4 separate regions of the Homo sapiens genome follow, and all the other regions are linked to region 4. Evidence: fine-mapped expression QTL. A gene starts in region 4. Each other region holds a variant in brackets. All regions are shown on one strand. Distances are between the middles of the regions.

The links. PIP is the estimated chance that this variant, and not a neighbour inherited with it, causes the effect.
Region 1: its variant is fine-mapped to the expression of KDM2B in whole blood (TOPMed, PIP above 0.99).
Region 2: its variant is fine-mapped to the expression of KDM2B in whole blood (TOPMed, PIP above 0.99).
Region 3: its variant is fine-mapped to the expression of KDM2B in whole blood (TOPMed, PIP above 0.99).

Annotation. Positions count from the first base shown.
Region 1 is chr12:121,553,084-121,558,083 of GRCh38, reverse strand. All of the region lies in intron 4 of KDM2B (lysine demethylase 2B), which reads left to right. Among named protein-coding and RNA genes, the nearest start is that of KDM2B-DT, 25 kb to the left of the region's middle. The variant T/C (reference allele first, on the strand shown) is at 2,303.
Region 2 is chr12:121,382,225-121,390,334 of GRCh38, reverse strand. All of the region lies in intron 1 of LOC124903037 (a long non-coding RNA gene), which reads right to left. Among named protein-coding and RNA genes, the nearest start is that of RNF34, 14 kb to the left of the region's middle. The variant A/G (reference allele first, on the strand shown) is at 4,424.
Region 3 is chr12:121,453,044-121,458,043 of GRCh38, reverse strand. It overlaps KDM2B (lysine demethylase 2B), which reads left to right. Exons shown (of 23, transcript NM_032590.5): 13 at 4,700-4,924. Among named protein-coding and RNA genes, the nearest start is that of MIR7107, 11 kb to the right of the region's middle. RefSeq lists an enhancer at 4,306-5,000. The variant T/C (reference allele first, on the strand shown) is at 3,061.
Region 4 is chr12:121,578,495-121,586,459 of GRCh38, reverse strand. It overlaps KDM2B (lysine demethylase 2B), which reads left to right and starts at 5,437. Exons shown (of 23, transcript NM_032590.5): 1 at 5,437-5,674; 2 at 7,514-7,658. The coding sequence starts at 5,549. KDM2B-DT (KDM2B divergent transcript) reads right to left here and starts at 5,949. Exons shown (of 4, transcript NR_183427.1): 1 at 5,197-5,949. RefSeq lists enhancers at 2,407-3,340, 3,341-4,276, 5,212-6,147 and silencers at 5,717-5,766, 5,847-6,156, 7,316-7,395.

The sequences.
Region 1 (5,000 bases), 27 kb after region 4:
ACAAGAAACAAGTAACCAAGAAATACGGTATTTAGGATGAAGTGGTATGAGGTCATCAGTGGGTGACACCTTTCTGTTTGTGAAGCTACTAGGTAAACTGCGATTTCGTTATAGAAGGTGTTGGCCCCGTGATCCGCTTATACCAGGCTCTGGGAGGGAGGCAAGGGGAGGGACCAGCCCTCCCCTGTGTAAATATGTCACATTTATGGAGCCATGTAGGTATACCCAGTCATTCTCTCACTAACCCTTCGATTAGTTTCCTAGGCTGTCATAACAAAGTACCACAAAGTGAGTGGCTTAAAACCACAGAAGTTTATTCTCTCACACTTCTGCAGGCTAGAAGTCCAAAATTAAGGGTGTCTGTAGGGCTACATTTCCCCCTGAAGTCTCTAGGGGCAGGTCCTTCCTTGCCTTCTCTGGCTTCTGGTGGTGGCTGGCAGTGCTTAGTGCGCCTTGGCTTGTAGCTGCGTCACTCTGATCTCTGCCTCCGTCTTCACGTGGCTGTCTTCCTTCTGTGTGTCTGTGTCCACATTTCCTTTGTCATGGCTGGGCACGGTGGCTCACGCCTGTAATCCCAGCACTTTGGGAGGCTGAGGTGGGTGGATCACCTGAGGTCAGGAGTTCAAGACCAGCCTGGGCAAAATGGTGAAACCCCGTCTCTACTAAAAATACAAAAAAATTAGCCGGAAGTGGTGGTAGGCGCCTGTAATCCCAGCTAATCGGGAGGTTGAGGCAGGAGAATCGCTTGAACCCAGGAGGCAGAGGTTGCAATGAGCTGAGATTGTACCACTGAACTCCATCCTGGGGAACAGAGTGAGACTCTGTCTCAAAAAAAAAAAAAAAAAAAAAAAATTCTCTTGTCTTATTAGGCCTACCCTAATCCCATATGATCTCATTCTAGCTTGATCACGTCAGCAAAGACCCTGTATCACAGATATTAGGGACTGAACATATATTTTGGGGGAGTGCAGTTCAACTCACAGTACCCCTTGAGGTACGTGGGTAGCCAAAACCGTTAGCAAATTACAGGGAACTGGGTAGGCTGAGGAGGGGAGGGTGCTGATTTCTGGTTAGTGCCTTCCCTGCGTCTACTGTTCGATCTGGGTCATAATCTTAGCTAATCCTACAACCTTTTTTTCTTTTTAAAATTACATTTTTATTGATTTACTGGCTTAGTTCACTTTGTGTTGCTATAAAGGAATGCCTGAGGTTGGATTTTTTTTTTTTTTTTAAGGACAGAGTCTCACTCTGTCGCCCAGGTTGGAGTGCAGTGGCACCATCTCAGCTCACTGCAACCTCCGCTTCCTGGATTCAAGTGATTCTCCTGCCTCAGCCTCCTGAGTAGCTGGGGTTACAGGTGCGCATAACCAGGCCTGGCTCAATTTTTGTATTTTTAGTAGAGACAGGGTTTCACCATGTTGTCCAGGTTAGTCTCAAACTCTTGACCTCAAGTGATCCACTTGCCTCGGCCTCCCAAAGTGCTGGGATTACAGGCTTGAGCCATGGTGCCCAGCTGGGTTGGATTATTTATAAAGAAAGGTTTATTTGATTCAGCTCTGCAGGCTGTACAGGAAGCATGGAGCCAGCATCTGCTTCTGGTGAGGACTTCAGGAAGCTTCCAGTCATGATGGAAGGGGAGGGTGAGCTGGTGTGTCACATAGCCACAGAGGGAGCAAGAGAGAGAGGAGGGAGGTGCCAAATGCTTCTAAATAATCCAGCCTGTAGCCCCAGCTATTTGGGAGGCTGAGGTAGGAGGATCGCTTGAGCCCAGGAGTTTGAGGCTACAGTGAGCCATGTTCAAGCCACTGCACTCCAGCCTAATGAGCAGAGTGAGGCTTTGTCTCAAAAAACAAAAAACAGGCCGAGTGCAGTGGCTCACCCCTGTAATCCCAGCATTTTGGGAGGCTGAGGAGGGCAGATCACAATGTCAGGAGTTCAAGACCAGCCTGGCCAACATGGTGAAACCCCATCTCTACTAAAATACAAAAAATTAGCCAGGCGTGGTGGTGCGTTCTTGTAGTCCCAGCTACTCGGGAGGCTGAGGCAGGAGGATCTCTTGAACTTGGGAGGCAGAGGTTGCAGTGAGCCGAGATCGTGCCACTGTACTCCAGTGTAGGTGAGAGAGTGAGACTCCGTCTCAAAAAAAAAACAAAAAACAAAAAAAACAAAACAAAAACCCAATTCAGTCTCATGGGAACTAATAGAGTGGGAATTCACTCTTTATGCAAGGAGGGTACCAAGGCATTCGTGAAGGATCCACCCTCACGTCCCAAACACCACACACCAATTCCTACCTCTAACA[T/C]TGGAGATATTTGAGAGATATTCATGTTTCAACATGAGATTTGAGATTTGGGGGGGAAAAATATCCAAACTATATCACTTACTTATTTATATTCTTATAAAAAATTTTGGCCAGGTGTGGTGGCTCACGCCTATAATCTCAGACATTTTGGGAGGCCTAGGTGGGCAGATGACTTGAGCCCAGGAGTTTGACACCAGCCTGGGCAATATGGCGAAACCCCGTCCCTACAAAAAATACAAATATTAGCCGGGTATGGTGGCCCACGCCTGTAATCCCAGCTACTTTGGTGGTTTAGGCACAAGAATTACTTGAACCAGGGAGGTGGAGGTTGCAGTGTGCTGAGATCGTGCCACTGCACTCTAGCCTGGGAGACAGAGCGAGACTCTGTCTCAAAAGAAAAAAATAAAATTACCCCAGACTAGTTATTCTTTCTTTTTTGATACTTTGACACTTGCAAAATAAATAACATTTTCAGGGTCTTAAGGTATAATTTTGTAAATTACTATATCCTCATAACTAAATGATATGATTAAACATTATTTTAAATTGGTATCCATTTTTTATAAAATAGGATTGCTATCTACTGTTTTTTAAAATTTTTTATTTTTTAAGATAGAGTCTCACTCTGTCACCTAGGCTGGAGTGCAGTGGCACAGCCATTGCTCACTGTAGCCTCTGCCTTCCAGGCTCAAGTGATCCTCCCAAGTAGCTGGGAATACTGGTGTCTGCCAACATGCACAGATAATTTTTAAATTTTTTGTAGAGATGGGGTCTTGACATGTTATCCAGGCTGGTCTTGAACTCCTGGGCTTAAGTGATCCTCCTGCTTCAGCTTCCCAAAGTGTTGGGGTTACAGGTGTGAGTCACCACACTCAGCCTACTCTTGCATTCATCAAATATTTGAGTGCTGCATGAATCCCAGATGCAGATGTTCTTTTGTTTTTTCTGGTCCACATTTGGACTAAGACTGAAAATCATAACTTGTGGATTAATACCTGTGTGCATGTGAGAGAGGTATATATACCTGGGATTAAATGAGAGTATAAAAGTGTTAATTTAAAGTATGTTACAGGCCGGGTGCGGTGGCTCACGCCTGTAATCCCAGCACTTTGGGAGGCTGAGGCAGGTGGATCACCTGAGGTCAGGAGTTCTAGACCAGCCTGGACAACATGGTAAAACCCCGTCTCTACTGAAAATACAAAAATTAGCTGGGCGTGGTGGCAGGCGCCTGTAATCCCAGCTACTCGGGGGGCTGAGGCAGGAGAATCGCTTGAACCTGGGAGGCAGAGGTTGCAGTGAGCCGAGATCGCGCCATCGCCATCGCACTCCAGCCTGGGGGACAAAAGAGAGACTTTGTCTCAAAAAAAAAAAAAAGTATGTTACAAAGGGCAAGTATCATGATATATACAAGGTATACATTTATTTGGAAACACTCCCAGATTACTTGCCATCTCTGAGACTCTCCATTTTAAAAAAGTAAAAAGTTTCATTGAAATATAAGTCACAGACCATACAATTCATTTCACCCCACTTTTTTTTTTTTTGAGACAGGATCTGGCTCTGTTGCCCAAGCTGGAGTGCAGTGGCACGATCATGGCTCACTGGAGCCTCAACCTCCTGACGCTCAAGCAGTCCTCCCACTTCAGCCTTCAGAGTAGCTGGGACCACCGGTGTGGGTCACCATGCTTGGCCAATTTGTGTGTGTGTGTGTGTGTGTGTGTGTGTGTGTGTGTGTGTGTGTGTGTGTGGAGCTGGGGTGTCACTATATTACCCAGGCTGATCTCAAACTTCTAGGGCCCAGCGCTCCTTCCAGCTCTGTCTCCCAAACTGTTGGGATTACAGGTGTGAGCCACCAGCCACCAAGGCCGGCCACAATTCACTTGTTTTCAGTATATTCACAGAGCTGTGCAACCATTATGAAAGTCCATTTTAGAACTTTTTCATCATTCCCCAGAAGAACCCCACACCCATTTGCATCTTGAATATGTTGTAGGGTCCTAAGCAGTCTGTTCACTGGGACTGGCCAGCAACGATTTAACTGGCTGTGATGCTGGGCAAGTCCCTAAACTTCCCAGCTCCTCACCTTCTCCACCTCTAGTTACAGATGAAACTGACCGACTCGGTAACGCTACCTACCTGTAGGTGCTCCAAGTGAGTGTGAAGTGCATGAACTCAGTTATGTCTCAGGACAGCTCCTGGGCTGGCTATTTGTTCCCCATGTTATAGATGAAGAAGAAACTGATTCCCAGAGAAGCCAAGAGCCCGAGGCACAGGCTGGAGGCTCCGCTGGGAACCGAACCCTCTAAATTTTAACAGTGTGTGGGTAGGGGTAGCTGAGCTTGGCCTTCAGTGCTGACTTGCAGGACTCTGGGTTCGTGATTTTAGTGCTCTTTATCCTATTTGCTACCTGCCCAGCAGACTCCTTTGCACAGGGAGCTTTGCAGACATGACCTTGAGCAAGATTAGGGAGGAGAAGTGGGTGGAGGTGGGAGGCTGGCCAGAGAGCGAGAGTGGGGAGGGTACCGGGGTTCTTTCTTTCTTTTTTTTTTTTGAGACAGAGTCTTGCTCTGTCGCCCAGGCTGTAGTGCAGTGGCGCGATCTCGGCTCGCTGCAACCCCGCCTCCCGGGTTCACGCCATTCTCCTGACTCAGCCTCCCAAGTAGCTGGGACTACAGGCGCCCGCCACCACACCCGGCGG
Region 2 (8,110 bases), 200 kb after region 4:
GTTTGAGACCAGCCTGACCAACATGGTGAAACCCTGTCTCTACTAAAAATACAAAAAATTAGCAAGGCTTGGTGGCAGGCACCTGTAATACCAGCAACTCTGGAGGCTGAGGCAGAATTGCTTGAACCTGGGAGGTGGAGGTTGCAGTGAGCAGAGGTCCTGCCACTGCACTTCAGCCTAGGCAACAGAGTGACACCTCGTCTCAAAAAAAAAAAAAAAAGAGTCCATCATTTGCTATAAAGTTTTTGAGCTAGAAGGGCCCTTCAAGGTCACTTTATGTACTTTCTCAATTTACATTGACAAAGTGCCTCCCAGAAGAGTTAAGTGTGCTCAGGATCACACATCTAGCTACAGGCAAAGATGGGACCAGAAGCCAAGTCTGACCTCTTAAACGCATGCTTTTTGCTGGCAACTTTGGAAAAACTCCAACCATTCTTTGCTCTAAATTCAAAGACAACCCAGGCTTCAAAGACGGAAACTATCTGATGACTCCTTGATAAGGATGTTGGGAATTTACCTGGACAAATCTTATACTCCAAACTACAGTAAATTCTAAACCAGAAAAGGGTTTAAACATATTTTTTAGAAAACTAAGAGAAAGCATATCATGTCTATTTCAGATATAACATGAAATAGATTTCAGATTTCTTTTCTTCTTAAAAAATTTTTTGGCCAGGCTCAGCGGCTCATGCTATAACCCCAACACTTCGGGAGGCTGAGGTGGGCAGATCACCTGAGGTTGGGAGTTCGAGACCAGCCTGACCAACATGGAGAAACCCCGTCTCTACTAAAAATACAAAGTTAGCCGGGTGTGGTGGTGCATGCCTGTAATCCCAGCTACTCAGGAGGCTGAGGCAGGAGAATCACTTGAACCTGGGAGGCAGAGATTGTGGTGAGCCGTGATCACACCGCTGCACTTCAGCCTGGGCAACAAGAGCAAAACTCCGTCTCAATAAATAAATAAATAAATAAATAAATAAATAAATTTTTTGAGTCAGGATCTTACTCTGTCACCCAGGCTGGCGTGCAGTGGCACCATGATGGCTCACTGCAGCCTTGACCTCCTGGGCTTAAGCAATCCTCCTGCCTAAGCCTCCTGAGTAGCTGGTATTACAGATGTGCACCATCACATCCAGCTAATTTATTATTATTTTTTGTAGAGACGGGGTCTCCCTATGTTTCCCAGGATGGTCTTAAACTTCTGGGCTCAAGCACTCCTCCTGTCTCAGCCTCCTAATGTGTTGTGATTACAGGCGTGAGCCACCGTGCTGGGCCACCTACTCTACTCTCTCGGTTTTCCTTCTGTCTCTCTGAGCAATTTCTTCTCCATCTCCTCTACCCACCCTTCAAGTTTTGGTGTTGATACAAGTATTGCAGGCCTTTCCACTTCTCACTCGACAGATTCTTCTGGATGACCTCACCCTGTACTCCAGATAGGTAACCATTCTCAGGAATTCCCTGTCTAGGTCTGTATATGGGTCTCCTGAGCCTCTGCCAATCCGTCTCTTCCCTGCGTTTCAGATTTGTCAGCTCAGTACCCACTTCCTTCCAACCCATGCTCCTCTTCCTGGGTTCCCTACCATGCTCTATGGCACCATGCTAGAGAACTGCAAGTCATCCTTGACTTTGCCTTTGAGCAGCTCTAGCCCTGTGCACCACTCACATCCATCTACTTCTTCATCCCCTTGGCCCATGGCTCTTACTGTTTCTCTTGCTTCATTGCAGCTGCAGGAGCTTGAGCTCCAATCTGCACTACCCCACCACCCCCACCACCTGCTTAGTCATCCCCACTTCTGGTTTGCTCTCTATCCTGAGGACAAAAGCCTCTTTACACGAAAAGTCTGACTTTGTCTTTTCCTGTTTAAATTCCTTTGGGATGGTGGGGCAAGGCGGCTCATGCCTGTAATCCCAGTACTTTGGGAGGCTGAGGTGGGCAGATCAGTTGAGGCCAGGAGTTCAAGACTAGCGTGGCCAACATGGTGAAACCCTGTCTCTACTTAAAATACAAAAATTAGCCAGGCATGGTGACGCGCACATGTAATCCCAGCTACTTGGGAGGCTGAGGCAGGAGAATCACTTGAACCCGGGAGGCAGAGGGTGCAGTGAGCCAAGATCTCACTCATAAATGTGTGTGTGTGTGTATATATATACACACACACACACATTTATTCCTTTAGGGTTTCCCAATGGCCTCATGAAAAAGTCCAAATTTATTAAAATAGTGTTACAGGGTCCTTTATCGTCCATTCCCTGCTCACCCCTCCAGGCCTACTTCCCACCACCCTCACCTCACAACCTCCACTGTAACCATACTGAACTGCTTGCAGTGCCCCAGTGGGTCATACTCTCCTACCTCTGGGCCTTTGCACAGGCAAGCTCTTTTGAGATGTAAATTCCCCATCTCTTCCAAGTTCAGAGGAAGCGCTTCATTGGCTTCCTGGACTGGCTATCTTTAATCAACCTTTAGCTACCAGCTCTGTAGACTTTCTCAAGGAGCTGTACTCTTAACTCCTAAAGTTGTCAGGCACACTGATACACATGTACATCATACACGATACTCACTGTCATACCGTATTATAATCGCTATTTTGCTACCTTGGTTTTTCTTTTCTGCTTTTTTTTTTAAATTGAAGTGCAATTAAGGTATAATAAAATGCACGAAACTTAAGTGTTCAGTTCAGTGAGTTTTGCTTTTGTTTTGAGACAGAGTCTCCCTCTGTCACCCAGGCTGGAGTTCAGTGGCGCAATCTCGACTCACTGCAACCTCCGCCTCCCAAGTTCAAGTGATTCTCCTGCCTCAGCCTCCCAAGTAGCCGGGATTACAAGCGTGTGCCACCATGCCTGGCTAATTTTTGTATTTTTAATAGAGATGGGGTTTCACCATCTTGGCCAGGCTGGTTTCGAACTCCTGACCTCATGTGATCTTCCTGCCTGTGTTGGGATTACAGGCGTGAGCCACCGCACCTGGCCACTTTGGTGAGTTTTGATGACTGAATACATTCATGTACTCACCCAGAACAAAATAAGAACATTTCTGTCATCCCAGAAATGTGTGTGTTTGTGTGTGTCTGTGTCTGTTCCTCTCTAGTCAACATCTCCTCCCATCCACAAATGCAGCCCACTGTGTAACTGGTTACTTGTCTGGATAGACTTTACACTCCATGAGGGCAGTTACCATGTCTACCTTCTTTTTGTTGCCCAAGCTGGAGTTCAGTGGCACAAACATGGCTCACCACAGCCTTAACCTCCTAGGCTCAAGCAATCCTCCTGCCTTAGCCTCCTGAGTAGCGGGGACCATAGGCACATGCCACCATACCCAGACAATTATTGAAAAAAGTTTTGTGAGACAGGGTCTCCCTATGGTGCCTAAGTTGATCTCAAACCCCTGGGCTCAAGTGTTCCTCCCACCTCAGCCTCCCAAAGTGCTGGGATTACAGGTGTGAGCCACCACACCTGGCCTTCATCTTCTTTATACATTTCAAAACCTAGCACATAATAGACAACTTAATAAATATGAATGAATGCATAGAATATTGATAGAATGGATAGAAAACTGCTGGGTATGGTGGCTCACGCCTGTAATCCCAGCACTTTGGGAGGCCGAGGTGGGCAGATCACCTGAGGTTGGGAGTTCGAGACCAGCCTGACCAACATGGAGAAACCCCGTCTCTACTATAAATACAAAATCAGCCGGGCGTGGTGGCAGATGCCTGTAATCCCAGCTACTCAGGAGGCTGAGGCAGGAGAATCGCTTGAGCCCGGGTGATGGAGGTTGCAATGAGCCAAGATCGTGCCATTGCACTTCAGCCTGGGCAACAAGAGTGAAACTCTGTCTCAAAAAAAGAAAAAAAAAAAAAGAAAACTGCAGTGATTACATTAATTTATTGGGATATTTTAGAGATTAACATCACTGACTGTAATAAAAATAGTTAAGAGGCAAAATATAGAAGTCTCCTGTCTCCTTGAGCCTTTGTTCACCCCTGTGCTGGTAATGAGACCTTTCTGTTGAAGTTACAATTCAAGGATTAGGCATTCCATCCCCAATAACAGTTGGCAAAAGTCAAAATAAATATTTTTGGATTCCACAAAATTTGAATTTCACACTGAAGTGATTCAATTTTAAAACATATTTACTTCAAGTCAAGTGTCCAAGTACCATATAAGTAATATCATCTCAAACAGCTACAGAAATGTGAAAATACATTTCAGACATTCACCAACAGACGTCACTGATACGTTGCAGTTATCGTATTTAGCATAAGCTTCAGGTATTAAAAGTAGGCCAGGTGCGGTGGTTCACGCCTGTAATCCCAGCATTTTGGGAGGCCAAGGCGGGCAGATCACTTCAGGTGTGGAGTTTGAGACCAGCCTGTTCAACATGGTGAAACCCTGTCTCTACTAAAAATACAAAAATTAGCCGGGC[A/G]TGGTGGCGCATACCTGTAATCCCAACTACTTGGGAGGCTGAGGCACAAGAATTGCTTGAACCTGGGGAGGCAGAGGTTGCAGTGAGCCGAGATCACACCACTGCACTCCAGCCTGGATGACAGAGTGGGATTCTGTCTCAAAAAAAAAAAAATGTAGATTAAGTCAACTCTCCCCACCCTCTTGAGAAGTGCTGACAAGGTCGAGAAGACGATAAATGGGACTAAGCCTTTTTTCAAAGATCATAATCAACACATTTATTAAAACCTTGATTGTGTGTAGTGCTATGCCATGCTAAATGATTCACACAGAGAATTAGCTAAACCTTGCCTCTCTCCTCTAACAGTTTACAATCCAAGGCAGACAGGCTGACGCTCTTGCACATTTATAGCCAAATTAGACAGACGCAATGAAATACGAACATTATCAACTGATAAATGAATAAAGTAGACATTCAGGGAAGGAGACATTCAGATGGTTGTGATAAGAAGAGTTGCCTTGAAAATTCCAATTTCAGACTATGCAGGATAAAAAGATTAGTACTCTTATCCATCACCACCTTCATTTACAATCATGTAAGAATATACATGTGCCTAGGCTGGGCACGGGGGGCTCATGCCTGTTATCCCAGCACTTTGGGAGGCCGAGGTGGGTGGATCACAAGGTCAGGAGTTAGAGACCAGCCTGACCAACATGGTGAAACCCCATTTCTAGTAAAAATACAAAAATTAGCCAGGCATGGTGGCGTGCGCCTGTAATCCCAGCTACTCAGGAGGCTGAGGCAAGAGAATTGCTTGAACCCGGGAGACAGAGGTTGCGAAGAGCCGAGATTGCACCATTTGCACTGCAGCCTGGGCAACAGAGTGAGACCCCATCTCAAAAAAAAAAAAAAAAAAGAGATACATGTGCCTAATAATTGTTCCCAAAAATGTCAACCTTTGTCCATCCTCATTCTGAAACCCTTACACCTTCTAGAGTCACAATACTTGTAGCAGTACTTTTTTTTTTTCTTTTTGAGACAGGCTCTTGCTCCATTGCCCAAGCTAGAGTGCAGTGGCAAGATCATGGCTTACTGCAGCATTGACCTTCCTGGCTCAAGTGATCTTCCCCCCTCAGCCTCCTGAATAGCTGGGACTACAGACACCATGCCTGGCCCGTTTTTTTTTTTTTTTTTTTTGTAGAGACAAGATCTCACTATGTTACCCAGACTGGTCTCAGACTCCTGGCCTCAAGCAATCCTCCTGCCTCGCCCTCCCAAAGTGGTGGGATTACAAGCATGACCCACCATTCCTGGCTGCCTGTAGTAATTTTGTAAGACTATAATTTCAAATGGTATTCTTGAACACACATCTGACTATGTCTTTGCTAAAAGGTTAATAAAATAGCCTTTTCTTTTCAGCACTGCTGCCAAGATTTCCAAAACAGCTCTTTTCATCTTGTATTGAATTTTTTTTTGTTTCAACTGATTCAATTCTATTTAATTCTTATCTCCCCTACTTCAACTTTTTTTTTTTTTTTTTTTTGAGACAGAGTTTCGCTCTTGTTGTCCAGGCTGGAGTGCAATGACAAGATCTCAGCTCACTGCAACCTCCACCTCCCAGGTTCAAGCAATTCTCCTGCCTCAGCCTCCTGAGTAGCTGGGACTACAGGTGCACACCACCACACTCGGCTAATTTTCATGGTTTTTTTAGTAGAGACGGGGTTTCTCCATGTTGGCCTGGCTGGTCTCGAACTCTTGACCTCAGGTGATCCACCTGCCTTGGCCTCCCGAAGTGCTGGGATTACAGGCCTGAGCCACACCACCTGCTGAAGCTAATTCTTTAGAATGGCCCCTTTAATTTGAATGGCTAATTATTACACCATTAGACGCTTGAAAAAAATACTTTTGGCCAGGCGCGGTGGCTCAGCAGTACACATATGCAGGTGTGTATATTGATATGACACTCATAGAAGAGTTCTAGGAATTTGCTCGATATGTTTATAGCTGGGTGTGAACTGATAGTCCCGAAGCTGAAAGTGGAAACTCCAGTACCTAGATTCAGATCCATGTTTCAAGTCGCTCTGAATATCACTTTTTTTTTTGTTTGAGACAGGGTCTTGCTCTGTTGCCTAGGCTGGAGTGCAGTGGCACAGTCACGGCTCACTACAGCCTCCACCCCTGGGCTCAAGCGATCCTCCTGCCTCAGCCTCCTGATTAGCTGGAACCACCAGTGGGCGCCACCACACCTGGCTAATTTTTGTAATTTTTGTCGAGATGGAGTTTTGCCCTCTTGCCCAAAATGGTCTGGAACTCCTGGGCTGAAGCAATTCTCCCACCTCAGCCTCCCAAAATGCTGAGATTACAGGCCTAAGCTACCACACCTGCCTGAAAATTATCTTTAAAATGACCTCAGATGCCTGGCTGAGTAATGTGTAGGTACTAGAATAGGCACAGGGGTGCCATAAAAAATGTTAGTAGATGAATGACATAATCCAAGTTTCTTGGTTTTCGTTGTTTTTCCTGTAAATGAATGACCCCTAATAGAAATTTTCAGTTCATGACTGTTAATGGGGATGGGGGAGAAATGTCCAGATCTGTTGTAATCCTTAGCTTTCTAAAATTCTTGCCCAGCCTCTAAAGCACTGCTCTCCAAATCTTATTATGTCTAAGAATAGAAATATCCTGGAGCGCTGACCTGATAGAAGTATTTTTCAGTTGTTTGATAGTGTTCACCTCGACTCTTATTAGAAGAGAGGGTAGCAAAGATTGGGATGCCTTTCCAAAAATATCGAAGCCTTTATCCAATATGGAATCACTGTCCCACAGCAGTGAGAATTACCTTAAGCAAAGTTATCTTGCTTAGAAAGTTGACTATAAAGACGGCTATGAGGACCGAAATCTTAATTTTCTTTTTTTTTTCTGATTACAAAAGGAAAATGCATTATTGTAGAAATATAGAAAAGTGTACAAAAGAATATTAAAATTACGATTCCACTACTTAAAGATAAGCAGTACCAGCATTTTGATGTACATCTGACAATTACAACAGCCAGACTTAACATTTACTGAGTCTTCTAATTTTTTTTTTTTTTGAGAAAGAGTCTTGCTCTGTCGCCCAGGCTGGAGTGCAGTGGCGGCATCTCAGTTCACTGCAAGCTCCACCTCCCCGGTTCACGCCATTCTCCTGCCTCAGTCTCCCCAGCAGCTGGGACTACAGGCGCACGCCTCCATGCCCAGCTAATTTTTTGTATTTTCAGTAGAGACGGGGTTTCACCGTGTTAGCCAGGATGGTCTCCATCTTCTGACCTCGTGATCCGCCCACCTTGGCCTCCCAAAGTGCTGGGATTACAGGCGTGAGCCACCGTGCCCATCCGAGTCTTCCAATTTTTAAAAAGTATGCTGGCCAGAGGCCGGGCATGGCACACAGCTGTAGTCCCAGCTACTCGGGAGGCTGAGGCAGGAGGATTGTTTGAGCCTAGGAGGCAGAGGTTGCAGTGAGCCGAGATTGTGCCACTGCACTCCAGCCTGGGCAACAGAGCTCGACTCCTTCTCAAAAAAAAGAAAAAAAAAAAAGCTAAGCACTATGCGTTAGAACACAGATGTTCTCATTATTTTAAAGACATGGGGGTCTTGCTATGTTGTCCAGGCTACATTCAAATTTTTCCAGAGAATGGGTGTATCAATTTGCATTTCTATTGGTTTTGTATA
Region 3 (5,000 bases), 130 kb after region 4:
ACCGATCTTAACAATATTAAATCTTCCAATTCATGAACACGGATGTCTTTCCTTTAATTTAGGTTAATCTAAGTAATTTTAATCCCTATAATTTAGAGCTGAGGGATTGAGGAGGTTCTGTCCATGCATTTTCTGGTGGATAATATCTGGTAGACCAGAGGAACTCAAATATTGGTGGGATGAATGAATAAACCTTGATAGCATTCACTTAAAGGACAATGCTCTTGAGTTGCTGATGGAGAAGAGGTGTAGGAATACCAAGATATTTGTGTGTGTGTGTGTGTGTGTGTGTGTGTGTGTGTGTATGTTTCCGATCTTCCTAACCTTTCATAGTGGGCTGAGGATATGGTTCCTGGGCTGATAAAATCAACAAGTCGCCTTGGTGTTGGGGATGCTGGTTCGTAAATGAATGTCTGGGGATGCCGTCACTTCCTTTGCTGGGACAGGGGTAGGACAGAGTGGAAGTTAGAATTGGTGTTTGAGGCCAGGCACAGTGACTCATGCCTGTAACCCCAGCACTTCAGGAGGCTGAGGCGGGCAAATCACTTGAGGCCGGGAGTTTGAGACCAGCCTGGCCAACATGACGAAATGCTATCTCTACTAAAAATATAAAACTTAGCTGGGCTTGGTGGCGCACACCTGTAATTCCAGCTATTCGGGAGGCTGAAGCACAAGAATTGCTTGAACCCGGGAGCCAGAGGTTATAGTGAGCCAAGATGACGCCACTGCACTCCGGCCTGGGTGACACAGTGAGACTCTATCTCAAAAAAAAAGAAAAGAAAAGAAAAGAAAAGAATTGGCGTTTGAAACTTTGGGTAGCACCCAAAAGATATCAGGACAGAGAAAGCTGTGTGCTGAAAGGAGAGAGCTCTGGCAGACTCACCTTCCTTTTTATTCCATTTGTCCCTTTTTGTGTCACTGTTTTCTGTATTCTGCCATCACGTTTCCTGGTTGGGTCTTCAGAGTCCCAGTTGGACTTTTTAATGGAGGCCTCCGAGGTCTGTCTTACCTGTGGGTTTTTCAGTGGGCTTCATTAGGATCCTGCGTTGCTCTGTTGTTGAACCAACTCTTGATGAGCCAGGCGGGGGCCACTGCCGGCAGCAGAAACCTTCCTGGCCTGATTTGGCAGCGGCTAGACAGGGCCTCATCAAGGTCTCGAGAGACTGCAGCTTCTCACACCTCTTCTTTCAGGATGTTGTCTGGTATGTGCTCTGTGATTTTCCCAGATGTCTCAACTGCTGTTGAGGTCCAGGCAGGTTGTTTTCCATAGGCTGGATGAGAAGGTGCTTTGGTTGGTGCAGGCAAATGGGCTTGTTTTGCAGTGACATAGGAGCTTCGAGACTCAGACTGGATTGGCCCAACGTTTTTACTTGCCCAGACACTGTCCTCGGGGCAGGGAGGCCAGAGGCACTCAGTGGCTATTGATACCTGGCGTTCCTTTGAACTCCTGGAATTTTTTCAGTTTTTTACCAGAGAAGCTCGTCTTTAGACTCTCCAGCTCCGGGGATCTGGTTTTGTCCTGGGAGGTGGCCCACACGCTGGCCACTTCACACCTGACTGGAGGCCTTAGACGCCGCCCATAGCATTGCCTGTGTTCCAGGTATTTGAAGAGTGAGCTGGTAACAGGGCACCTGTCGTTTGGAGGGGTAGAATCAGAAAGTGCTATTGTAGGCTGTGATGACAGGGAGAAACGTTTTTGGATTTCCGCTTCTCTGGAAGTAGCCGTGCTTCTCTGCACCTCTTGTTGGCACCCTTCGCACTGAGGCATCGTGGCACTAGCTGGGAAGCCCTTCCAGGAGCATGTGGCCATCCCAGTGGGTCTGTGGGCCCCTCGCTGCACTTCGCACATGCATTTGCTGTGGTTTAGTGTGTTCAGTGCACAGCACCGGAGTCCACGCATCATGCTGGTTCCATGACCACAGGCAAATTACTGGCTTCAGGAAGGCATCCTCTGCAGTGCTGTTATTGGGAAAGTTAGGTAATATCATCAGTAAAGTGATGGCCACGGTGCCCGCAGATGGGGGTGCTCAGGGAATCCCTGCCCTCACGCGGCATGGCCGTCATCTCGGTCCTTAGCGCTGCCTGCCTGGCCTTGGCTGCTCTGTTGGCTGCTCAGCTTCAGGTTCACAGTCTGCTCTGTGCCATTCTCAAATCCAGGAAGCTCTGAAAACTGATCTCGTTTTACTTCTCACGTGGGCAGCCAGACGTGACTCGGATGGATGTGTGTAGTGTGTGGTGGACTTGGCCCCCGAAAGGTGCTAATCGCAGTGGGACTATGCGAGTATGTTGGGGGCATCCGGCCCTCATTGTAAGGATGGATTTCTTCCTTTTTTGTTTTTTGAGACAGGGTCTTGCTCTGTCTCCTAGGCTGGAGTACAGTGGATGATCACAGCTCACTGCCACCTCAAATTCCTGGGCTCAAGCAATCCTCCCACCTCAGCCTCCTGAGTAGCTGGGTCTGCAGGTGCACACCACTACACCTGGCTAATTTTAAAAATTTTTTGTAGGTCTCACTATGTTGCCCAGGCTGATGTTGAACTCCTGACCTCAAGTGATCCTCCCACCTCAGACCCCAGCATGCTGGGCTTATAGGCGTGAGCCACCGTTCCTGGCGCCCTTTGCTGCTTTGGATGGTCCCTTTACCCAGGTGACTGGTGGTGGCCAGCTTGCCTGTGGGTGGCCCTGCAGTCCAGGGCTTGCCCTCCCTGTGACAAGGCCTTCTGCTGGGCTGCCCCAGAGCAGAGGGCAGGCATGACTGAGGGTCCTGAGCAGCTGGGGAAGACCAGTGGGAGATGAGGGTGGTAGAGCCGGGGAGCACCTCCCTTTCCTCTTTGGGGTTCACAGCAGGTTGAGCAGGGTAGAGGCCCAGAGCTCCAGTGCTTCCTGAGGGGCCACTCGGGCTGATGGGGGCCTGGAAGCTCCTTGAATGCTGTGGGAAGGTGAATCGGAGGGAGGGGTCTGCTTAGGTGTTGACAGCAAAGTGGGTGGCACGTGAGGCTGCGGGCTTTCTACAGGGACCACTGCACTGGAGAAGAAAGTTGATGGTGGCGAGGCTGTATT[T/C]GAGGAGAAAGGGGGGCTGTTTTTCTTCCTATGCAGTTGGAAGTTTCTAGGAAGCCCCTAGGGTGCAGGGAGTTGTGTGTGTTGTGAGAGGGGGTCCCTGTGATGTGGACCTTCTTCTCCATTGGAGTGTATGAATAGTAACAGCTCTTCTGGGTCTGTGTGCTCCCAAAAGTATGGGGTTTTGTTTGGGGATTCAAGTATGACAAGTCACTGAAATGAAGAGGGTGGGACTCTGGACCAAAGGGTGTTCAGTTAGCTGAAAAGGGGCTTTAGGCGTTAGATGCCGTTAGGTCAGCTGGTTTCCAGGGTGACCACGTGTCTCCCTGACAGGGACTTCACCATTTCTCAGCCACCCCAGGCTCTCCAGAAAGATGCCACAGACAAGAAAAGCTCTCCCATCCTGGTCCCTCCCACTACAGGTCCCAGGTGGACAGGGGACCTCTGTGGACAGTGTCCTCAGCAGCTAGCTTAGGGCTCCCCCGTAGATCATGGGTCTGCAGGAGGCTCTGGGGCTGGGAACCAGAGGGCAGGGGCTGTGGCTGTCCCATTTTCCTGGCTTAGCTACTAGCCCAGCTCTCTGTCCACCTACTGTCTCTCTCTTCTGTGAGTCCCAGGGAAGGGAGCATTTGGAGCCCATCTAGGGAAGATCTGAGTAGTCAGGGACCTAAAGGTTACTATCCCATCCTCCCTGGGGTGGCTCTGGTTTGTTGAGTGCATTCTGCATGCCAGGCTGGCTCGTAGAGAGGTGCAGTGGTGCACAAGACACCTGTGGTGAGTGCCCTCCTGTGCCCCGTCTCAAAGGGAAGGAACAGATGATTACCATCATGAGCGCTCTAACAGGATCTCCCAGAGGGGCCCTGAACCCAGTGCAGGTGGGCAGTAGGGGCTTCCAGAAGAAAGCAGCCTGTAAACTGACCAGACGGAATGAGTGGGCATCAGCCAAGTGGCTTGGGCGGGGGTGGGGTTGGCCTTCCGGGCTGGGGGAACAGAGACCGATTGTGTGGCCCCTTGCGGTCTTTCTTGGGGAGCAGACGGAGGTGGGAAAGGTGGGCAGGGTCCGAGCCTGTGGGTGCAGCCATGGAAGGTCTCGAGCTGTGTGCTGCGGCAAGAAGCACGCGCCCTCTGTCGTCCTCTCCTAGGGCTGCCATAACGGGTGGCTTAAAACAACCGGCCTTTCTTCTCTCCCGGTTCTGGAGGCCAGGAGTCTGAAGTCAAGGTGTGGGCTGGCGGGCCGGGCTGGCTCTGCGGGCTCTAGGGGAGGGTCCTTCCCCGCGCCTCCAGCTCCTGGTATGTGCTGCCATCCTTGGCACTTCTTGGCTTGTAGACAGGGCTCCAGTCTGTGGAAGGCCTGTGTCTTCACACACGTTCTCTACGTGCGTGTCTGTCTCTGTGTCCAAAAGTTCCCCTTTCGTAAGGACACCAGTCATACTGGATTAGCGTTCACCTGAATTACCTCGTTTAACCTGACGGTCTCTGCAAAGCCCCCATCTCCAAATAAAGATCACACTCTGAGGAATGGGGTTTAGAGCCCCCATCGTGTCTTTCTGGGGGTACACAGTTTGCTCCCTAACACCCTTTCCGGGGGTCTGGCCGTGCCTGCAGTCTCCCCATCTGACCAGTCGTGTCTGTTCCCCTGCAGAACCGGGCTGTGGGTCGGCCCAAGGGGAAGCTGGGCCCGGCCTCCGCGGTGAAGTTGGCCGCCAACCGGACAACGGCAGGAGCTCGGCGGCGCCGGACGCGATGCCGCAAGTGCGAGGCCTGCCTGCGGACCGAGTGCGGAGAGTGCCACTTCTGCAAGGACATGAAGAAGTTCGGGGGCCCCGGGCGCATGAAGCAGAGCTGCATCATGCGGCAGTGCATCGCGGTGAGTGCGGCCCCCGCCCAGCCCTGCGCTCGATTCAGGCCCCTGCGTGCCGGCCCGCGTGTCTGACCGCTGCTCG
Region 4 (7,965 bases):
CAGTCTTAGATGCCCAGCAGGTGGATTAAGAAACAGAAAGTCACTAGTATCTCTGTTCACATTCCTTTCCTGAATGGTCTTTTGCAGCATTTTGTGTTAATCATTCCTTGCTTTTATTCCTGTTTTGTGACTTATGTATCTATATCTAAAGAATATTTAGCCTGTAATCCCCCACTTTGGGAGGCTGAGGGGTGGATCACTTGAGCTCAGGAGTTTGAGAACAGCCTGAGTAACATGGCAAAACAGAGTCCCTACAAAAAGTACCAAAATTAGCTGGGCCTGGTCTTGCATGCCTACAAGTCCCAGCTACTCGGGAGTCTGAGGTGGGAGCATTGCCTGAGCGCGGGAGGTGGAGGCTACAGTGAGCTGTGATCACACCACTGCACACCAGAGCCTGGGTGACAGAGCAAGACCCTGTCTCAAAAAAAAAAAAAAAATTTAGTTTTGGTTTAGGTTTGCCTGATTTTGAATCTTATAGACTTAAAAAAGGAATAAAATGGAATTATTTTTGAGTAGGTAATACATCTGTGCGGTACAAAATTCAAGAGGTACTACAGCATCTAAAATGAGATTAAGTCAATAAGGTTTAAAATCAGGCACCGTTCATGTACATATGTGGTAAAAATATCACTTTACCAAAAAATAGGCTTTCTTCTCTTTTCCCAGTTCTTTTTCTCACTTTTTGATCTTTCCAAAGGAAATTCTGCACATACTAAAGAATGTATGGGTCGGGCACGGTGGCTCATGCCTGTAGTCCCAGCAGTCTGGGAGGCCGAGATGGGCGGATCACCTGAGGTCAGAAGTTTGAGACCTGCCTGGCCAGTATGGTGAAACCCTGTCTCTACTAAAAACACAAAAATCAGCCGGGCATGGTGGTATGCGCCTGTAGTCCCAGCTACTTGGGAGGCTGAGGCAGGAGAATTGCTTGAACCCGGGAGGCGGAGGTTTCAGTGAGCCGAGATTGTGCCATTGTACTCCAGCCTGGGTGTTATAGCAAGACTCTGTCTCACAAAAAAAAAAAAAAAAAAAAAAGCATGTAGATACAGACATAACCCTTTTGGTTTCCTTACATGGTCCGCACAACTTAGTATTATTAGTATTCTGCATGTTGTTTAGTTTCGTTTTGGTTTGGAGACGGAGTCTCGGGATGTCACCCAGGCTGGAGTGCAGTGAATGATCTTGGCTCACTGCAACCTCTGCCTCCTGGGTTCAAGCGGTTCTTGTGCCTCAGCCTCCTGAGTAGCTGGGACTACAGGCGCACGCCACCACACCCAGCTAATTTTTGTATTTTTAGTAGAGATAGGGTTTTATCATGTTGCCCAAGCTGGTCTCGAACTCCTGAGCACAGGTGATCTGTCCGCCTTGGCCTCCCAAATTGCTGGGATTATAGGCATGAGCCACTGCGCCTGGCTTCACTCCAGATTTTTTATAATATTACTATGACTTTGTGCAAAGCCCCTCACATTTGCAGTACCTTTGAATCCTTGCCAAATCTCCATAAGGGGCTGTAATTCCCCACCTTTATGGCTGAGGCTCAAAGACAGGTTAACTTGCTTGGCCAAATTTTATAGCTAGGAAATAATGATAGGATTCGAACTCAGAGCTTACAGGAATCCAGAGCCCACAGGGTTGCCCACTATGCTAAGCCTCCCTTCAGGGCTGTCCCACAGAAGATGATAGAGTTATTCAAGATATTCTTTTTTTTTTTTTGAGACAGAATCCCCCTCTGTCACCCAGGCTTGAGTGCAGTGGTGCAATCAGCTCATTGCAAACTCTGCCTCCTGGGTTCAAGCAATTCTCCTGCCTCAGCCTCCCGAGTTGCTGGGATTACAGGTGTGCACCACCACGCTTGTCCAATTTTTGTATTTTTAATAGAGACGGGGGTTTCATCCTGTTGGCCAGGCTGGTCTTGAACTCCTGACCTCAGGTGATCCACCTGCCTCAGCATCCCAAAATGCTGGGATTACAGGTGTGACCCACAGCGCCCAGCCAATGATAGGGATATTCTGTATCTGCACCATTCAGTGCTGTCACTTCTAGCCCCTTCAAATGTAGGTACTGGGTTAAGGAGCTGAATTTTACATTTTATTTTAATTAAATTTAAGTAGCTGTATGTAGCTAATGTATCCCATCAAACAGCACAGCCTTAGAGTGCTTTCCAGAATTTGTTTTAACTCACCTACCAGGCTATATATACCTAAGAGGCTGATTTGATACAGGGTCCCCCTAATCAACCTTCCACAAACATTTGTGGAATGAATGAAGGGTCCATGGGGAAAGGGGGCCAAGGATATCAGCAAAGGTTTCCTAGAAGAGGCCATCTGATTACAGTGTGAATGCTTGCAGTGTTAGCCCTTAAACCACTCTCTCTGAGTGCCTGCCAAGGGCATGGCACTGCGTAGACTCCTGGGGATACCAGTTGGATATGAGGTTGTCCCACCTGCTCAGATCTTACAAATAAACTTCTCAAGGACAAATAGTTGGTGATAGGGTAGGAATCCTGAGACGTGGATGATCACTTTCAGATATATATTCTACTGACAGACTCAAGCACAAAGCTGCAATCCCTTATAGCTCTGTTTGCAATAGAAAAAGATTGAAAACCATCTAAAAGTTAGGGAACTAATTAAATCATTCTTGCACCATTTATCTGCCCAATGAAATGCTATGAAATCATTAGAAAGAATAAGGAAACTATAGCTGATGTGCTATAGCATTCCACATATGCTGATGTGGAATGATTAGATATCCTTAAATTAAAACAAAACAGGGCCAGGTGTGGTGGCTTACGGCTGTAATCTCAGCACTTTGGGAGGCCGAGGTGGGAGGAACACTTGAGCCTAGGAGTTGGAGACCAGCCTGGGCAACACGGCAAAACCCTGTCTCTACCAAAAATACAAAAATTAGCTGGGCATGGTGGTGCACTCCTGTAGTCTCAGCTACTTGGAAGGCTAAGGTGGAGCATTGCTGAGTCCAGGAGGTGGAGGTTGCAGTGAGCTGAGATTGTGTCACTGCACTCCAGCCTGGGCAACAGAGCAAGACCCTCTCTCAAAAAAAAGAAAAGAAAAATCAGGAGTTATGATAATCATATATGAATATGAGAACAACTTCAATTTCTTATCAAGATTCTGGTTTCTGAGAGCTACATCCAGTGTCCACCCTTTCCTTGGGAAGCTGCAGGTCCATCGTCCTACCCAGCCTCGAGTATGCCCCAATCTGCATGCCCCACGCTGCATCTTCTTTTCTCTAGCCTCTCTGTCTTTGGGCACAGAGTTGCTCAATCAACCTTTGATGAATGAAGAATGAATGGGGGTAACTCAGGCAGGATTTGACTGGGCCCTTTGTAAGATCGAGCAGGAGGGTCCAGGAAATAATTATTATTATGTTTCCAATACAACCGGCCCGGTGTTTTCCTGCAAGAAAAAGTACATCTCTGGGGTAAGCACCTTCACCTTCTCTCTTCCCTTACCTACTCTCCACTTCTCTGGGACAATTAGTCAACACTGGGAGCTCCAGGGTCTTGGCCCTTCCCCCTTTGGTCCAAAATAACCTCCTCCCCCACTTTGAGCAAATGCTTGGAATTCTTTCAACTGGAGGACAAAGCCTTTCATCTGCCAATTACTGATAAAGAGAAAATGCAAATATCGAGGGGGAAGGTGATTCATCAAGGGCCCAACATTTATTGAGTGGCCACTTAGGACCCGGCAGCAGGGCAGGCATTCTGGGGGAGGCCAAGGGGAACAAACCCCCGGCTGGCCCATTCTTTTCTCGTGTTTGCGGTTTCCTCGAGGTTTGTAAAGGGGGGGGATTAAATGAGGTGACTACCCAGCCCCTTCCCACTCTGACAGGCCAGGAACTCCTCGTGGAGGTGATAGATGGACTTAACTGTTTTTATACTAAGGTGGCTGCCATTGGACCTTTTTCTGATGCCAGCTTTTGGGGCCACTATGAGGCCACTTGGAGAGAAAGAAGGGCCTCAGGGAGAAAAAAGAATTAATTAGATGAAGCATTCTATTATATATTTTTTGCTTTATTTCACTTAATTCACTTTGCGTCACTCTCCAGCCCATGCAGCCTCCTTTGAACATGTTTATTTCATTATGGGGCAGTAGTGAGGCTGGTAAGTTACTAAAAAAAAAAAAAAAAAAAAAAAAAGCACGTGATGGCCAAGCCAGGCTCCAGTGTGAGCCCTGGCAGCGGCACATACGCGCTATGTGATCCTGGGTGAGTGGCTTTGCTTTTCTTAGTCCTAATTTCCTCCTTTGCAAAATGGGAACGAACAAGACGATTTCCCTTAAAGGGTTCTTGTGAGAAAGACAGGAACAAATAAAATGGTCCATGGTTCTGGACGGACTGAAGGCAGAACCGGCAGCACTCACACGAAGGGCTACTGATTGCACGCAGCAGCCAACGTGGGCGATTTCAGTTTGGAAACAAATTTTGATGTTTCCCAGCCTCATCCCTGCTTAAAAGATTTTTACAGCTAGTGAACATGAATGAAAACAAACTTCAAAGAGTAGCCTTTGAGGATGGGTGGGAAAGACTACAGTCAGATAGGACAGGAAACTTCTAAGGTGAGTGAGGGGGAAGCTGTCTCTTAGGACGGCCAATACGATGCTGATAGTGACATCGTATCTCCTGGTGGGGAAGCCACGTCCTCCCCACAGGTCTGTCTGATAGCCTGGGGACCATATGGGAGCACAGCAATCATTCAGATTCATAATTTCTCTGAGCTTCAGTTTCCCTATCTGCAAAATGACCTGCTCCAAGTATCCCACAGGGTTATGGCAGAAATAAAATGTCAGGCTCAAAGCCTGCTATCTACAATGTCCCTTTATCGTCTCCCTCTTGCCATGTCATTTTATCAGCATCTTTACCCGCAAGATCAGGCCTAGCAGGGCGCCACAGCTGGGGCTGGAGGAATGTTTAGGGCTAGCTTTTCTCAAGCCAAGTCGACCTGACTGTTGCTCATGATGGGAGGACAAGACAACCCAGGACCAGTGCTGGGGTAGTCAAAAACACTAGTAAGTGGACAGGGACCTAATGACACCCATGTATGTACGGAGGGTGCCGATACCTCCGCTAAGAAGCCCTGTAGGGGCTTCATCAAGGGCACTAGAGTTCCCCCCACCTATCCCAGAGCACCATGCACCTTTCCACCGACTTGTCTTCTATAAACTACCAACAAGGGCTTACCCTTCGCTCCTGTGCGGGCTGCGTTAGGAGGCGCCAGATCCAATTCTCTGCGTCTTTCGCTCCTGAGCATCTATCTGCTCCCCTTGCCGAGCGCAAGAACCTTTAAAAAATGTCCAACTTCTGTTTCAGGGCTGGTCGCCTAGTAAAGGAGTCCACAGAGGCGGGCAGAATGAATGAATGAAAGGCAACGTCTTCCGGTCAGCTGCGGACTGCAAAGGCTCTGGTCTGGCTGTATTTCCTGTACGTGTGTGTGTCCACATCTTTGAGTGCCGGGAGTTTAAAAGTTAGGCAGTCCTTATAGGTATGGAAGCCGAGCTAATTTCCTTCTGAGCCCCCCAAATGCCTCCTCCACATGGCGGGTCCGCAAATGGGGGGATCTGCAGAGGATCACCCCCCACGAAAAAGACATGCAGCAGAAAAGCAAAAAAAGAAAACAGTTATATATACAAAATGCTTTGAATTTGAGTCGGCCACACAGGTAATGTTGGGGGAGGGGTGGATGAAAGAAGAGGAAGAGGGGTAGCCCTGGGCAATGAGGGCAGGAACGGAGGTGGGGGGTCGTTTTTGGGGGTGCCAGGCCCCGGGGGCTTTCACGCCAGCATGCTCGGCTTGCATTTCCGCGCCTCCCGCTGAGGCCAGCCGTGCAAATCTGCACCTCCCTCCCCGCCCCCTCCTCCTTCCCTCCCTCCCTGCCCCGCCATCTCCGGGATGCGCCCGCCGCCTGCAACTCGGCCCTCCAAAAGTCAGCTCTGCACACAACTCCCGGGCGGCGGCGGCGCCTGCGTGCAGAGGCGCACTCGTGACCCAACAACAAAACAGCGATGCCACGGCGCTAACGGCGCCCGGTGCCTCCCGGGCTCCCTCCCCGCCCCATACCTCCTCGGGCCGCCGCCCCCACCCCCCCAAGCCCGGGCCGAGAGCCCCCCCAAATAGCCCGGCCGCGGGCTCCGAGCGCGATCGGCAACAATGTTTACGTTCCGGGGATTATGACGTCGACGCCTCCCCCCCCCCACAACTGCTGAAAATGGTTTCCTAGGACTTTGCAAACGGATCTGCCTAAGTGTTGGTGCAAAACTTTGTAGATCTCGGCTCTGGCTTGCTTTATTTATTTATTTTTTGGTTTGTTTTCTTTGGTCTTCCCTCCTTCCCCCCTCGGCCAAAATGCAGGGGGCAGGAGTGTTGACAATTAATTGGTGAACTCTCCTAAAAAAATGGAGGCAGAGAAAGACTCTGGAAGAAGATTGGTGTGTAGCTTTTTTTTTTTTTTTTTTTTTCCAAATCTGTATCTGGCATATGATAGATCTTTTTTTTTTTTTTTTTGGTTGTTTCTCGCTGCCTTTTCTTTCCTTTTCTGTATTTTGCAAGAGGACCGGGAAAAAAATATAATAAATTGCATGCAAAAGGAAGCAAGCTGCTTACTCCTCCAGCCCCTTGTGAGGCTTAGAGTCTCAGACACTTAAGTGGGGAGGTGGTATCGGGGAAAGGCGTGGAGGGGGGCTGAGCGGGCTCGGGGTTCGCCCGGAATCTGGGGGGCTGAGGGGCCGGGCGCTGGGCGGTGGAGGGAGGAGGCAGGGGGATGCGGGGAGTGGTGGGGGAGTCTCCTTAGGAAGTGAGTGTGCGCGCGCGCTTGTGGGGAGATGAGGCAGCTGCTGGTGCGTTTTGGGGTCTCCGATCCGAGCTTTGTGGCGGGCCGTCTGCCTCTCCCCCTTCCAAGCCCCGATTCTCCTCCCCCCACCTCCTCTTCTTGCACTGGCGGGCGGGCGGCGGGGGCGGCTGGGGTCTCAGCCCTTCCATTTCAGCTTTCCAGCTTCCCCGGTAGCTCGGGGGCGGCTCCAGCTTTAGAAATGCCGCCGGCCCCCGGTTCCGGCTTCCCGGCTCTGCCGCCGCGGCCGCTGGGGCTGCTGTTACCGCCGAGCCGGGCGCCGCAGCGGCTCCTCCTGGGGCCTACATTTGCCCCGCCAGCCCGTGTCCGGAGCCCCCTTCGCGGGTTACATAACCAGGCTCCCGGCCGAGTGGGCGAAGCCCAGCACATTTCGGGGGCGGGGGGCAGGGGAGGGTCCCCAGATGTCCCTTCAGTGCTTCCGAAGACACCGGAGGGGAGTACCCCGCGTAGAGCGCAGCTGGACCCTCGGGGTGCGGGCCCCTCTCCTTGTCCTGCTTTTCAGCATCTTTGGCAATTGCGCAAAGTTGCTTGGGTTGCAATGGTGGGGTGCAGGGGGCGCTCGGCTGCTGCACCTGTTAGTGCTGGGCCCAGGTTGAGAGGCGACCTCCAGCCCCCACAATAATGTCCCGGGCTCTCTGGTTTGGGTCCTCGCAGCGCCCGATTGACCGCCAGCGATACGACGAGAACGAGGACTTGTCGGACGTGGAGGAGATCGTCAGCGTCCGCGGCTTCAGCCTGGAGGAGAAGCTTCGCAGCCAGCTGTACCAGGGGGACTTCGTGCACGCCATGGAGGGCAAAGGTGAGGCGCCCCCACCCCGGGCCGCCCTCTGCGCTGCGGGCCGAGCGCACGTGGGGAGGGAGCTGCCGGTGGCTGGGTTCGTATTTCGCGCCCGCGTCCCCCATTCCAGGGGATCCGGTGACGAAACGAGGCCGAGCACTGGGGGGGTGGGGTGGGGTGGTGAGGGAGGAGGGCAGGCAGTAAGGGGGGCCGGGCATGGGCCTAGGCCCGGCCCGCGCCCACCACCAGCCCCAGGGTGGGCAGAGCCAGGGGGCCGGCGGACAGAGGGACCTGGAGATGGACAGGCGGACCGAGGGAGGGCGGGAGC